Linked DNA regions of Homo sapiens: region 1 is linked to region 2. Evidence: fine-mapped expression QTL. Tissue or cell type: testis. Region 2 holds a variant in brackets; the other region holds the start of a gene. All regions are shown on one strand. Distances are between the middles of the regions.

What was found. PIP is the estimated chance that this variant, and not a neighbour inherited with it, causes the effect.
Region 1: RCVRN starts here. The variant in region 2 is fine-mapped to the expression of RCVRN in testis (GTEx, PIP 0.95).

The regions. Positions count from the first base shown.
Region 1 is chr17:9,900,689-9,908,867 of GRCh38, forward strand. RCVRN (recoverin) reads right to left here and starts at 4,583. Exons shown (of 3, transcript NM_002903.3): 1 at 4,112-4,583; 2 at 301-412. The coding sequence starts at 4,492.
Region 2 is chr17:9,957,218-9,965,396 of GRCh38, forward strand. GAS7 (growth arrest specific 7) reads right to left here. Exons shown (of 14, transcript NM_201433.2): 5 at 1,985-2,038. Among named protein-coding and RNA genes, the nearest start is that of RCVRN, 56 kb to the left of the region's middle. RefSeq lists a silencer at 1,603-1,796. The variant C/G (reference allele first, on the strand shown) is at 3,896.

The sequences.
Region 1 (8,179 bases), 57 kb before region 2:
TTCCCAAAGTAAAACCATAGAAATACAGATCCCACTGACTTGGGACTCGATATTAATTCAAAGCTAGGGTGAGCTGAAGTTTGCTCTTGTTCTAATTGCACAGAAAACAGTTTTGGCTCCTGCTCACCCTTAAGGCCATTCCCCTGTCCAACCCTTCAAACAGCTCTGAAAATGCACAATGGAATGAGGTGTCCCCCATCCTGCCTGGACACTGTGACTCAGAAGAATAAATCTTGTTGGGATTTCCAGGAAACAGCCCATGGTTGAAAAATCAAAGGCAATGAAGGAAAAGGAATTCACCATCATCATTCTTTCCAAAGTACTTCCAGATCTTCTCGGCTCGCTTTTCCGGCGTGTTTTCATCGTCTGGAAGGAGCTTCACGTCCTCGGGAGTGATCATTTTGAAAATAGCCTGTACCAAACAGAAAGAAAGAACTCGTTAGGAGGAACTTTAAGGGGCTGGCAACCCTGGAAAATCCACATCTTACACTGTACACAAAAATCTACTCAAAATGGATTAAAGACTTAAACATAAGACCTCAGACCGTCAAACTGCTGGAGGAAAACGTAGGGGAAAAGCTTCTTGGCACTGGTCTTGACGATAATTTTTTGGATATGACACCAAAAGCAAAGGCAACATAAACCAGAATAAACAAGCAGGATAGCATCACACTAAAGAGCTTCTCCATGTCAGAGGAAACAATGAACAAAATCAAAATGTAACTTATGGAATGGGAGAAAACATTCGCAAACCATTTGCGTTCTGCCTCCCCGGAGACACCTGTGAGCAGGTCAGGCAGGGGCAATAATGGCTGTGAAATTATCCTGGAGGGAAGGTCGACAGCTTTGAGAAGTTTCCCTTCAGCCCCCTGGTGCTGGATAAAGGAGTAAAGAGGCCAAAGCCACAGCCCAGGGCAGCAGCGTCGCTGGCAGCACTCAAAGCCCTGAGCTGGACGCCAGTGTAGGTGGCTCCTACACTCCTATCCATCTGTGCAGGGCCTTGGGCACCATGTGCAGGTGTGCCAGCTAGAAGCTGGCAGTGAGTGCCTGCCCACCCCACTTCCAACACGGAGGGACAGACCTCCAGAGCCTCAGGAAAGACTGCAAAAATAATCAAATCCTCACCCTGGGCCCAGGAAGGTTATATGGTTTTCCCACAGCAACACTGCTAGTTGGAGTCAGAGCTGGGACTAGAACCCTTCACTTTTAACTCCCTCAGTCAGTGCTCTGCCCATGAACTTGTAATCTGGTGAATAGCAGAGCCTTCTGCCACCTTGCACAGCCCCAGCCATTGATGGAGTCTCCCTCCCTCCCTTTCCTTTCTTCTTTCTTCCTTTCTCTCCTCCTTTCCTTCTCCTCCCTCCCTTCCTTCTCTCCTTCCCCTTGCTTCCCCCTCTTTCCTTCCTGACTCCTACCTTCCCTCTCTCCCTCCCTCATTTCCCCCTCCTCCCTTTCCTCCTCCTTTTATTCAATGAGTATCAATTTGTAGGCTTCTGCTGGGCCCTGCATTGTTTATGCCACTCTGAAGACTTAGTCCCTGTCCCAGGCCACCCAGAGACCCCACAGCCAATCCGAGGGAGCTTTCTCTGCAGGCTGTGCCAAGATAACAATGAGAGAGACACATGCCTGCCAGAATGGGAGGCCCGAGCTGAGCATTGAGGATAAGCCCATGGACCACAAGCTGCATGCTCTGCTGTTTTATTTATGATTTCTCCTAATAACTGTGGAAGATTTTTGTGCATTTGTCATCATGCAAATGAAAGCATGATTGCCAATGCACACAAAGTTATTAACATCTAAACAATAGTCTCTACTAACAGGAATGGAATTAGAAGAATAAGGTAAGTGGCAGGGGCAGGGGGACTGAAAAAGAATAAATTAAAAAAAAATCAAATGAAGGAAATTAGAACTGGTATAATAGGAAAGAAATGGAAACAACCTAATGTCCAAAAACATAGGAATGTTCAATAATTTCCACATTTCCATAAGCCAGAATTCCAAGCAGCTATTAAAAGAGTTTTGGAAGAGGTTGGGTGCGGAAGCTCACGCCTGTAATCCCAGCACTTTGGGAGGCCGAGGCGGGCAGATCACCTGAGGTCAGGAGTTCGAGACCAGCCTGGCCAACATGGTGAAACCCCGTCTCTACTAAAATACAAAAATTAGCTGGGCAGGTGCCTGTAATCCCAGCTACTCGTGAGGCTGAGGCAGGAGAATTGCTCAAACCCAGGAGGGGGAGGTTGCAGTGAGCTGAGATCACGCCACTGCACTCCAGCCTGGGCGACAAGAGCAAAACTCTGTCTGAAGAAAAAAAAAAAGTGTTTTGGAAGAATATGTAATGATATGGAAAGCACTCATGATAAAAGAGTAACTGAAAAATGTATGATAAAAAATCGTATGTGAATATGTCATAGCTTTAACATTATTTAAAATTATATAGGTAAAAGACTGAAAAGGTATATACTGATATACTAAGAAAAGTTTTCCCTGGATGTTGGAATTAGAGGCAATTGTTAGTCTCTTTTGCCTAGGTTTCTAAATTTCATGAGTTACTTTTATATCAGATAAACCATTTTCAAGACACCTACGAGGTTAGTGGAAAAGTAATTATGGTTTTTGCCATTACTTTCACAACAAAGGATCTGACAGGAGGACAGTATGGACAGGGGAGAAGGCGTGTTGGGAACCATATGGAAGCCTGTGCGCCTCACAGGGAAACTGTCAGGAGCCGGGGAGCCACGCCGCGCGTGGGAAGCGGGGGCTCATGCGTGGTGCCATGATCCGCCCCGCGCTGGGGAGAACATGAGGACTAGAACTCAGAGTTCATGCCCCCAACTTTGACCTCTTTCTACTTTATATTAGAAGCATATTGTGTGTTTAGAATGAACAGTGATTCAACTTGAATGTGTACTGCTGAAAATTTCAAAGGACATTTTAATAAAGGAAGGAAGAAACAAAGGATGGAGAGAAAGAAAAAATGTAAATATAGTCACGTGTCGCTCAGAGACAGGAATACATTCCGAGAAACACATCTTAAGGCAACTTCTATGTGGGAACATCATAGAGCATCCTTGCACGAACACAGATGGTAGAGCCGACTACATCCCTGAGCTCCATGGTCCAGCCTTTTGCTCCTAGGCTACAAACCTGTGCAGCACGTGACTGTCCTGAATGTTGCAGGCAGTTGTCACACGATGGTAAGTATTTGTGCATCTAAACATAGCTAAACATAGAAATCATGCAGTAAAAATACAGTATAAAGATAAAAAATGGGCCGGGCACAGTGGCTCATGCCTGTAAATCCCAGCACTTTGGGAGGCTGAGGCTGGCGGATCGCTGGAGGTCGGGAGTTTGAGACCAGCCTGACCAACATGGTGAAACCCCGTCTCTACTAAAAATACAAAAATTAGCTAGGCATAGTGGTGCACACCTGTAATCCCAGCTACTCGGGAGGCTGAGACAGGAGAATTGCTTGAACTCGGGAGGCAGAGGTTGCAGTGAGCCAAGATCGCACTATTGCACTCCAGCTCTGGGCTACAGAGTGAGACTCCATCTCAAAAAAATAAAAAATAAAAAACCAAGATACAAAATGGTAGACCTGTCTAGGGCACTCACCATGAGTGGAGCTTGCAGGACTGGGAGTTGCTCTGGGTGAGTCAGTGAGTGAGTAGTGAGTGAATGTGAAGAACTAGGACATTACCGTACACAACTACAGACTTTACGGATACACTTAGGCTACACTAAATGCATTTGAAAAATAAAGTAACTGTGCTATGACGTCACTAGGCAGTAGGAATTTTTCAGCTCCATTACAATCTTATGGGACCACAGTGGTCTATATCGTCCGTTGTTGACCCAAACATCGTGAAGCCAAGCATAACATGGCTGTATTAGGAAACACTCAGATTCTGCTCCGGGAAGACAACGAAGCTGTGGGCAAGTGCCCACCCCTCTATCAATATCAGCATCTCGGAGCACCACGCTCTCAGAGCCAGTGGCCCGCATCCCCCGCTCCACCCACAGATCCACTCCCTCTGCAGCAGCTGCAGCAGGGGACCCCCAGCCCGGAGCGACCCCGGCACCGCCCAGCCAGAAGGGGAGAGGGGAGACTGACCATGACGATCTCCAGCACTTCATTCTTGCTGATGGTCCCGTTACCGTCCACGTCGTAGAGGGAGAAGGCCCACTCCAGCTTCTGGTTGGTCTTGCCCGCGGTGGTCATGTGCAGGGCGATGACGTACTCCTTGAAGTCCAGGGTGCCGTCGAGGTTGGAATCGAAGCTGCGGAACACATGCTGGGCGTAGGCCTTGGGGTCGGTGTCGGGGAAGAACTTGGCGTAGATGCTCTGGAACTGCTGCTGGGTGATGCGGCCGGTGGGACAGTCCTTCAGGAAGGACTGGTACCAGGAGCACAGCTCCTCCTCCGAGAACTTGGTGTTCAGCTGCAGCTCCTCCAGGATCTCCTTGGACAGGGCCCCACTTTTGCTGTTCCCCATGAGTGAGGAAGAGTGGGCAGCGGCTGGGGAGTCGCTGGGTGGGTGGGACGTGCGTGGTCCCCTGGCCGCAGGCTGGGCTCAAGGCTGGTGTGAGCTGAAGACCGAGATGCTGGTGGCTTAGGAGGATTTGCGACCAGTTCTTCGCAATCCTTGAAGGGAGGAGGGGCCCAGGAGCTTTGTGGAGGGCGGGAGCGGTGGGGGGGGGTGCTCCCAGAACCCTAGTGAGATTAAAATAAAGAGCCCAGGGCAGGCAGGCAATTCATCTCGGCCTCCCGGGACGATACTAGAACAGGACAGGAGGTTGGAACCCTCAGAGCTGGGGCCTCCGGCACCCCCAGCCCCAGCCCTCTAACAGCAGCCATGTTCCCTGTTTCTCTTCCTCACTAACTCTGAGCATCTCGGGGCGGGGCTGGCATCTCATATCAAGCCCTAGAATGCAATGGTTAGGAGCACAGACTCTGGGGCCAGCATGGGTTCAAGTCCCAGCTTGGCTACTTAACTAGCTGTGTGGCCCCAGGCTTGTTTCTTCACCTCTTTCCACCTGGGACACTCTTCTAAACCTTCACTGCAGTCATGTCTCTGCTTAAATGTCACCTGCTCAGCCAGGCCTATACTGACCCTCTATCTATAATAGCACAACCCCCACCATCATCGGCACGCTGCATGTCCCCTCACCGGAATGAAAGCTCCGTGAAGGATGGGATTTTGTCTGTGTTGTTCCCGGATGCATTTCCATTGCCAGAACCTGATAGGCTTGGGCCCCCAGCAAGTCTTTCTTGAATAAATGGGCATCATAGCATCTACCACACTGTCATTGTGAGGCTGATGTGAGTCAATATGTCTGACACACTTAGAAACTGGCACATGGCTAATGCTAAACACTCGTTTTGTTATTGTCCATCAGTCACAGGGAGTGAAGGTGAACTGCCTGAAGGGACCAGCAGGGGGCAGCCAGGCCTGTGTCACCTCGGGAAGGGGCTGCCAGAGAACGTGGTCACATGGGATGGTGAGATTTTTGGGTTTTTTTAAATTATTCAAGAGAAATCCAAAAATCAGAATTTTTCTTGCAATTTCCACACTTTTCAACTTTGGCAATTAATTCAAAATTTTAATGGTGGCTCACGTCTGTAATCCCAGCACTTTGGGAGACTGAGTGGGGAGATTACAAGGTTAGGAGTTCGAGACCAGCCTGGCCAACATGGTGAAACCCTGTCTCTACTAAAAATACAAAAAATTAGCCGGGCATGGTGGCAGGTGACTGTAATCCCAGCTACTTGGGAGGCTGAGGCTGGAGAATCGCTTGAACCCGGGAGGCAGAGGTTGCAGTGAGCCGAGATTGCACCATTGCACTCCAGCCTGGGTGACAAGTGTGAGACTCCATCTCAAAAAAACAAAACAAAAACAAAAACAAAAACAAAACAAAACATGGTGTGGGCCAAACACAATCTATCTGTGGGTCCATGGCAGGCTGCAGGGTGTCCGTCTGCAGTGGACTTGGAGTGAGCAGGCAAGAAAACGTGTTTGCTGAGTGAATGGATAAATAACTGAGTGGTCAGAGACGGAGCTGTGCAAAGGCAGGCTTCGCGTCTGTGCAGCTCAGCGGGGAGTATCAAGCACGAGGAAGCAACCTAGTGAGGACGCTGCACACCTGGATTCTTGTCACCCAGAAGGAAGGGAGGGTGGGCGTGCACTTTCCTTAGCGGAGCGCAGTGCTCGAGGGGACACACTCAGAACCCCAGCCTTGCCACCGTGGATGGAGAGTTGTCTCTTTTTGCCCTGGGGTGAGAATGATGAAGAATAAACCCCACGGTCTCCAGGCAGGTAAACTGGTTTTTTTTTAGACGGAGTCTCCCTCTGTCACTTAGGCTGGGCACGATCTTGGCTCACTGCAACCTCCGCCTCCTGGTTTCAAGCAATTCTCCTGTCTCAGTCCCCTGAGAAGCTGGGACTACAGGTGTCTGCCACCACGCCCAGCTAATTTTTTTTTGGTATTTTTAGTAGAGTCGAGGTTTCACCATATTGGTCAGGCTGGTCTCGTAAACTCCTGACCTCAGGTGATCCGCCCGCCTTGCATCTCAAAGTGTAAAGTGGGGATTTTAGCCTACTTACTAACAGGCTAGTGGCAGCAGAAGGTAGGTCCCTGCTGCTGGGAGAAAGCCACCTGCCAGGCCCACCTCATGTCACTCTGGAAGGACCGAGAGGTTCAGGCACCAAGGGGCAGACTCATCCCTCCCAGCCGCTCTGCCCAGTACAGTTTCAGAGATTTCTCAGGAAACCTGCATATTGGGGTGTGTGTGTGAACTTTCTAATTTTTTTCCATCACTTTGTGAGTTTTTTTTTTTTTGTTTGTTTGTTTTTTTTGTTTTTTTTTTTTTAAGACAGAGCCTCATTCTGCGCCCAGGCTGGAGTGCAATGGCACGATCTCGGCTCACTGCAACCTCTGCCTCCCAGGTTCAAGCGATTTTCCTGCCTCAGCCTCCCAAGTAGCTGGGATTACAGGCGCTCACCACCATGCCCAGCTAATTTTTGTGTTTTTAGCAGAGATGGGATTTCACCTTGTTGGTCAGGCCGGTCTCGATCCCCTGACCTCATGATCTGCCTGCTTTGGCCTCCCCAAGTGCTGGGATTACAGGCATGAGCCACTGCGCCCAGTGAGAATATTACTTCTGAATAGGAGTCCTTCCTCTCCTAGGCTTTCACCATCCTGTAGCGTGCATTTATTCTCAAGAGCAGTTAGAAACAGGACAGTCACTAGCCTTGAAAACAAACGGGAGCCCAAGCCACACCCTGGAATCGCATTCATTCCAGAGCTTCCTTGCAGCCCTGGGGATGGAGGGAGAGTGAGGTCAGAGGCCTCGGCCCCTTGCTCTGAGCCACTAGTAGGGGGCGACTGGAAGTGCCTCCTGGATCGCACCCCTGTCCACATCAAGCCTGCAGCAGATGAGGCGAAGCCAGTGTTACAAGTGAGAAGTGGGGCCTCCTAAAGGCATGTCACCAGCCTGGGGTCACATGGTTGCTAAATGGCAATGCCAGAAGGAAGGAAAGTCCAGGTCTGCCAGCCTGTCCATTTAGGCTTCCTTTGTCTACGTCACAGGAGGCCTGAGCCTAGAGGACAAGTAGGTGAGGAGGTGGGGTTACCATGTCAATGAAAGAGGCCCTGGGCGAGGCAGAAGGCAGCCAGAGCCCTCCAGTCTTTGCTGTCCTCTCCAGGCACAAGGAGGAAGGAGCTGGACCCAGGTCGGAAGCAGCCTGGTACAGTCCACATTCTCCAGGTTGCTGTGCCCAGGAGGGGCCCCAGGGGACCGCAGGCAGCTGTGTTGATGCTGAGAGTGAGGGGTCATGACCTGGAGGTTTGTTTGAAAACCTGCATAAACATCTTCTATCAGAGGGAGAGCTTATGCTCCTTAGCCAAACAAGTTGTTGGAGATGATGTATTGTGAGTCGATTTGTTAAGTCTGAGCTGGGGCCATAAACTCTCCCAAAACCCAAAGACTGCTCTAGAGGAGAAGGCTTCATCTCCAGGCAGAGGATCCCAGTTTTGGTCTCGCTCTCCTCGCTGGACTGAAAGATGCTTCCCAGAAGCTGGCCCTGTCCCCTCAAGCAGGAGCTCCATCTTGGCCATTAGCTGGGACCCAGACGCCACCCCTTCCCCATTGCTCGACCTTGCCTGCTATGAGCTGAAGGCCA
Region 2 (8,179 bases):
CTGAAGGTCTGGGGTGCCATCCAGGAATCTGCATTTTAAAAAAGGTCTTGGAGGCTTGAGAATACAATTTGCAGACTCCCTCATGAGAAGCAATGATATGGCTCAGCAGGAAGCGACAGGGAAGGCAGGGATGGGCGAGGTGTGCTGCCCATCAGGGGCCCAACAAGGGCCGCCATCAGCCCCCTCCGGCCACACCCGAAGCCCTGGCTGTAAGATGGACTCCAGCAGGTGCCCCACCCTGTGGCCTGGGCACCATCACTAAGCGCCTTTAAGGCAACCCTCCACGACATAACACTCTGCTTTTCACTTTGCATTTTTGTTTTTCTTCTAGAATTCAAATATGTCTCCCACTCCGACCTCCCCCCCTTTCTCCTCCCCCTCCTTTTTATGTATTTCAGAAGACTCTGGAGAGCTCCTGCTGTGCCCCAGCATTCTGGGGCATTTTGTGACAATTTGAAGATGGGGACTGTACCCTCTGGAACTCTGCACCTGAGCCTGCCCACACCCCCTACCCACCAGCTCCATCAACTCCACCGGTAACAGGGAGGCTGCTGCTACCCCACAGTCCAAGCAGGCTGAGTCGTTCTGCCCAGCCCTTGGAGACACCGTCCATCAGCACAGGGCACTCCAAAGGAGCTCATGACACAAGGAACCCAAGCCAGCTCCAGAAGGGGCACTGTGGTAAGGACATAGATTTCAAATCCTGATACTTCCCAGCTGGGTGACCGTGAGCAAGGTGCGGCTCTGTGCCTCAGTTTCCTCATCTGTAAACAGGGTGATGAGTGTGCACAGAGCACTTACTATATGCAGGCTCTGTTCTAAGTGCTTTCCATGGATGGACCCATTTAGTCCCTACACCATCCCTAAGGCAGAGACCACCCACTACCCCCCATTTCCCCACTTGACAGTTATTGACTGAGACGGGAAGAAGTCAAGAAACTTGCCCCAGGCTGTTGCACTGTCATTAATATAACCGACACTCTGGCCTCAGAGTCCACGTTCATCATCGTTATACTATATTGATTCCACGACTGACACTTCATATAGCTAATGGACAATTAAATGAGCCACTTGGATCACTACATGTGCATAATAAGTGCACACAAAAGTTGCAGCAATTGTTATTGTTAATTGTTTACCTACACTTTTTCTCCCAAAGCAGGATGTGCAGCCTGGACGAAGCAGGGAAATGCACCCACTCTTGGTTTTGTCTCCACAGGGGTGGTCGGAATGGCTCAGAGCTGTGTGAGTTGGAGCCTAAGAGAGCAATACCCCGTTCCCTGCTCTCCTGCCCTTGTGCCAAAATAGCAAACCTGCGACCACACTTCTCAGGCCTGTGCCCCTCAGGGGGCAATGATGTCCAGCCCCAGCTGCCCCAAACACAGGGCTGAGGAGCAGAGGTGGAGTGTGGGGCTCCCCTTCATCTCTGCATGGGGGTGGGTGGGGTGGGCTCCCCCTCATCTCCACATGGGGTTGGGCATCTCGAAGCGCCCTGGGAGGCAGGCTGGCCACTCTAGGCAGAAGCTGCCTGCTCCCCTCAGGGACTCCTAGGAACTCTATTCTTAGGACGCTTTCTCTTGCTTTTTACTTTGACATCTTCCAGAAGTTACCCCGCACAAAAGCAACCCTGCCGTGGCTGTAATTTACACGTCACATCACTTGCGCTGAGCACAGTCCACCCCCTTCAACCCACTCCCGCACGCATACCTTCCCCTCCTGCCCTGAAAAAACGGCTTCTGCATCATCCCAGCCATCCTCCTTCCACTTGTTCACCAGGAGAGAAGTGAAATGTGAAATTGACAGGAGAAGGGGAGGTGGGAGGGGCATGTGGATGGGGAACTTGAGTGAAATCCGAGCTTTGGAACTTCCCCGTTTCCAGGTTGGGCATCACTTCTGCTTGGCGGTCCACATCGCCATGGCAACAGCCCAGCCAAATGCCCCAGCTCGCAGCCCACCCTGAGGGCGCCCCTCGGGAGCCACTTACTGTGATGGTGTTTTCCTTGCTCTGCTTTTTGCTTGGCGATGAGGATCCCAGGTTCTGGGGAGAGAGGCAAGAAACATCGTCAAAGCTGTTCTCCATATTGGACATTTTTTCCCCCCATTCAGGTTCCCTGAGGGTGGAGGCGCTGGGGAATCAGGGATGCTCAGTCTGAATCCTAAGTCACCATATTCTGGGCCAGGGCAAGCAGGGGTCTCCCTGACCCCACGCTGTTCCCACGCCCAGCTCTCGGGCTGAAGGCGAATTAAGGAAGCCTCCTGCACAGGCTCTGAGAGAACTGCTCCAAACCAGGTCTCCCCTCCTCTTCTCTCAGTCTGTGATTTGGGGAGTTAACCCCTCCGCTGCCCTCTGCTGGTGAACGTTCCGCGTGCCGCTTGCTGCCTGAAGCCGCGGAATCCACTGGGGAGAAGAGAGTTAAGGCCACCACCTCCTGGCACTGAGGAATCAGCACACGACATTTTATTCTGAAACCCCCCGGGTCCAAAACGTCAAACCTAAATACACACAATGTGCACTGGGGCGCTGCTCGGTCACCTCCCTGACTCCCCGCTCCCCCAACCCCGTGAGCCAGGAGGGATTTCTCAGCCAAACCGACTTCCAGCTTCCACTCAGTCTTTATATTGCCTTTTGATGTCTTCCACCGCCAGTAAGAAAACCAGAGTCCCAAGTACCTCTGAGCCTGGGGTCCTCAGCAGTTTGCCAAAGTCCTGGGATCGTTCTGGCAGAGAAAATTAAGGACTGCCAGTGCAAAATGCTACACGTGTCCTAAGAGCCTACGACTCCAAAGAATGTTTGATTCTGGGTCTCTGTTGTTCTATTAGCAATTATGTTGGGGGCTCAATACCAGAGATCCCCAAGCAGGACCTGGGATGTCTCCTATCCTGAGCCACACAGCAACCTGGGAAGCAGGCTTACCCCTAAGGCACCGCAGGTGGCCATCACACTTGTGCCCCAGGACTTGTGCATGACCTTATTCTTTTTTTTTTTTTTTAAGATGGAGTGTCATTCTGTCACCCAGGTTGGAGTGCAGTGGCGTGATCATGGCTCACAGCAACCTCTGCCTCCCAGGTTCAAGCAATTCTCCTGCCTCAGCCTCCTGAGTAGCTGGGATTACAGGTGCCCGCCAGCACGCCCAGCTAATTTTTGTATTTTTAGTAGAGACAGGGTTTCACCATGTTGGCCAGGCTGGTCTCGAACTTTTGACCTCAGGCGATCCACCTGTCTCGGCCTCCCAAAGTGCTGGGATTATAGGCATGAGCCACTGCGGCCAGTCTGGCCTTACTCTTCCTTGGTAGAATGTAAGGAAGTGGCTGTCACTTTATAGATAAAGGCCAGAAAAAGGATGGAGGGGCTTCAACAAGAAGGAACCACCGGCTTGGAGTGGGGGGCACCCCGCCCCTCAGGCCAGCACGACCCTGGACACCTGGCCAAATGACCATCTGCAGGTGAGGGCGAGCCTTTGCCTCAGAAACCCGTCAGCAAATTAGGCAAACCAGGGAGCTTGACTATGCCCCTGCTAAGGTCGCATACCCTTACTCCCATACAGTCTTACTTGGGTTGCTAATTAAAGTCAACTCAGGAAAACTGATATCCTTAAGGTGTCTAGCAAAAATGAACCTTACAGAGCATTAATTTCACAGACAAGAAAATGATTACTAGCCTTGAGACCCTGGCCAGAGAATCTGACTTCTTTGAGCCTCAATTTCTCCATCTGTCAAATGGATGGTTATCACTGGTCCTCAAGCTTTGAGGTGCATCAGAATCAACTGAGGAAAAAGTGTCCAAAATAGAGTCCCAGCTGCACTCTCAGCTGCTGGGCCTGATCCAGCAGGTCCCAGGTGGTGCCAGCACCTCTGATTTGCAGAATCTGTGGACCTCACTCAGAGATACATGGAT[C/G]TGATCTACACTGTGGTTTCACTGAGGTACCTCTACTTATGGCAACTCCTCTAGTGACCCCAACGGGCTCCTGGCCAACGTCAACTTTATGGCCAACTACAGCTTCCATAGACATTTTTAGTGCATCATCTCATCCAGCTGGCCCACCCTATACCTTCCCACTTGACAAAACTGCACAGGGAGAAAGGCAGACGGAGGCTACATGGCAGGAGGTACCAGTCACCAAGGAGAAGAGACAGGGATAGAAGTCTCTCTCTCCATAGGTTCATTCACGTACAGACTCTAGCCAAGCAAATACATGGCAGGAAGGGGAAAGAGTAGCCTATGGGATGGATTCTGCAGTCTGCAGGAGTCTGTCTTCCTGTCATGGACACATTACCACCATCACCACCGCGTTCCCACTGCAGCCCCCCAGAGAGGGGAACCAGCACTCCAGCAGCCTTGGCAACAGCCTTCGAGTCTGCCTATGGATGCTGATGATGTTGGTGATGAGGGGGCTAAGGGGAGAAGCAGTGCAAGAGCGACTGTCTACTGAGTGCTTGCTTATTACGGCAGGCTCCAGGTTAGCCATCTGACATATTTAATCTCATTTCATCCTTACAACCCCAGCAAGTTAAATGGCATCAACTCCATTTTGCAGATCATGAAATTGGGGCTTGCAGAAGTAAAACTGTCCAGGGTCACAAGGCTATAGTAAACAGAGGAGTGGAAATTAGAATCCAAGCCTGCATAACTCTTTCCTCTATCTTCCGCCATCTCTCCACTTTGAGACCTGAGACAATATTTTGTTTTCCATGTGTCTTTGCAGGAAGGCAAAAAAGATTTCCATCAACCACAAACATATATTTTGGGACCACTGTGTATAAATCTCTGTAGAATAAGGCTTGACGCAGAGGTCGCACCTCCTCCTTATAACTTGGCTAGGATAGGAATACAAGTAATGGCATTGAGGTTGGGTGTTCCACGTGTTAGGTGTCAGCACCTTCCCTGGTCTCTGTTCTATTAGCAGTGTTTTACTTCAACCACTGAGGGCCAAGGTAGATCACAGGCAATCTCAGGCTCTGCCTGTGCTGCTGATAACCTGTGCCTACTGCTCCAACTTCATATACATATCACGTGCATTTTATACACACACACACACACACACACACACACGTGACACACACACTATCATAATTCTCCATTGAAAGGGCCCAGAAGGAATGACATCTCATCACAGTGACAACATCTACTGGCTAGAAATTGGTTTCCAAATATTACCGGAAGCTCCTTGGTACTAATTTCAAAGGCAGGTATTTGGAATATCCTATTGTACCAAGAGGTAAGAAAGTATTCAGAGAATAATGGAGAGATAACAAAAGAACATAAACAACTTAAAGGGCTACCACAGGCCAAATCTGCGACAATTTGAGCACAAATATGAATGAATGACTGCAACTAACTAACTAACTCCAAAGGGGAAGGGAGAGAACATTTATTTCAGAAGAATGCCAATAAAAAATGTACAAGAAATTGGATGACCACCATTTGCAAACCCCAGCCTCAAAGGGGACTCAGGCCATGATCCTCAAGGATGCTGAAAGCAGGGGATGGAAAGACTGCCAGGGCACAGGATACTCACAGGGTCTTACACTGGCACCTCACAGATGACTGACAAATTAGAAAGGGAAAATGTACCCCTGCAAAGGAGAAATCTGGCAGTCAGCACCTTAACCGAGAGTGCAAACTGAGCCTCATGAGTAGGGTGCCAACCTGGGTGGTTGTGCCCCCAAATGCAGTAAAAAGAACCCCACATGCCCTGTCCAGCTATTCTTGCCCAAACTCCAGAACCTGAACCTACGCATAAGAGAACAGTCAGACCAAGAACGCAGGTTATTCTATAAGACACCTGACCTGGACTCCTCAAAAATAAATCGTCAAGGTGATGAAAAAAAAAAAAAAGAAAAAAAGGTGTAAGGGATTGAGTGTAGAGGCAACGAGACAGGCAACAACTTGGATGAAACGTTCTATCCATACGACAGAATATTCTTCTGTCATAAAAAGGAATGGAGTGTTCATCCATGCCGCGATGTGAATGAACCTTGGAATTCCAGGTGAAAGAGGCCAGACACAAAAGACCACAGATAGTATGATACCATTTATATGAAATGTCCAGAAGAGGCAAACCCATAGAGACAGAAAGATTAGGGGCTGCCTAAGTCTTCAGGTGATTCTGCTTGGGTTGATGAAAATGTTCTAAAATAGATTTGATGATGGTTGTAAAACTTTGTAAATATAGTAAAAAACACTGAATTGTATACACTTTAAATGGGTGAATTGTATGGGTATGTGAATTACAGCTCAATAAAGCAGTTTTTTGGTGGGGGAAGAGAGAGAGAGAGAGAAACAACAGAGACACAGCAACCAGTGTATCTGTGTGTGAACCTGAAGGGATCCTGGACTGGGGAGAAAAGCAGCCATAAAAGGGATTTGGGGGCCAGGTATGGTGGCGCACACCTGTAACCCTAGGCTTTGAGAGGTTGAGGTGGAAGGATCGCTTGAGCCCAGGAGTTCTAGAATTCACGAGCTATAATGGTGTCACTGTACTGTAGCCTGAGGTACAGAACAAGACCCCATCTCTCTCTTTTTTCTTTCTTAAAAAAAGGCATTTTTTGAGACAATTGAGGAATCTGGAGTGTATATATTAGGCGGCATTATTGAATTAATGTTTTCTTAAATATGATAATGGTATTATCATTATGTCTTCTTCCTGGAAGATACATTCTGAAATATTTGCATTTAAAACAGTAAGTCAGAAATGTGGTTTAAAATAATCTAGGGGGTGGAGGGCAAGGGGATTGGGGGAGGGGATGGGAGCACAAATAAAACAAGATTGGACAAAGGCAGGTAATCGTTGGGCTTAACAGATTTGTGGTACCTTATTATATATTCCCTCTACTTTTGCAAAGGTTTGCAAATGCCTATAATAAGAGTATTTGTTTTAAATTTCCTTTGCCTGTGATTCCAGAGAACTCTTCCCTTCCATTTATTTTGTAAAGGCCTGCCCAGGGGTCAGGACACCCCACCTGGGCATCTCTGCATCACCCTGAGGCCTGGCAGGGGGTGATACCACACAGGAAGTGCTTGGTAAACTGGAGTGGGTCATTCACAAGTGATTCAGCAGGCCCCCGACTCCAAATGTCTTCTCAGCCCATTTCCTCCCCCCCTGCAAATAATCTGGGTCCCATCCCTTCAGCAGGTGGGATCCTGTACAAAACCCCTCAATGGCTTCCCAGTGCAGTTAGGATAACCCCTGAGCTCCTCGTGGCAGGCCTGCGCAGACTACCCCAGCCTCATTTCCCACCCTCCCTATTCCTGCTGATTTAGTAAGCCACAGCCACACTGGGTCTCTATGCGTAAACACGGTTCCCCCTTGCTGCCTCCAGGCATCCACGATGCTATTCCCTCCCCTGGAAAGCTATTCTTTCCCCACCTCTTTGCCAAGTGAAACCCTTGCTCATCATTCCAGTCTTAGAATAGGTATCTTTTCTTAAGGTACCTTAATTCCTGACATTTCCAGCACCAGGCTAGGTTCTCACAGCATCCACTTCCTCCAGCCTTTGTCACTGCTGAAATTGCACCATTATTTATCTACTGTTTCTCCCACACCAGCCATAAAACTCCATCAACGCAGGGCTATAGATATCACCTGTGTCTCAGTGCCTGACAAAGACCGAAATTGCTCAATAAGAACATGTGTTATTGAATTATTGAGGTAGGTAGGAGGTGGTGGAGATTAAACATCTCACCTCTTTCTCCACTTTGAACTCCATGCTCCAATGGGTCCCTCAAGTTTCCAAGCCCTTCGTCCCATTCTCTTTCCTCTCTCCTGTGTCTAGAGGGTCTTCCTGGGAAGTTCGTGAGAAGCCAGAACAATTGAAAGGTGGATCACAAAAAGGCCCAGGCACTGGTGGGCAGGAAGGGAAGGGACCCACTAGGACGCGATTCTGCAAAGGCAGCAAGACTATTAGCCTTTGATCTAGAACCGGAAATACCATTTGACCCAGCAATCCTATTACTGAGTATACCCAAAGGAATATAAGTCATTCTACTATAAAGACACATGCACACGTGTTTATTGCTACACTATTTACAACAGCAAAGACTTGGAACCAACCCAAATGCCCATCAATGATAGACTAAAGAAAATGTGGCATATATACATAATGGAATAGTATGCAGCCATAAAAAAGAATGAGTTCATGTCCTTTGTAGGGACATGGATGAAGCTGGAGGCCATCATTC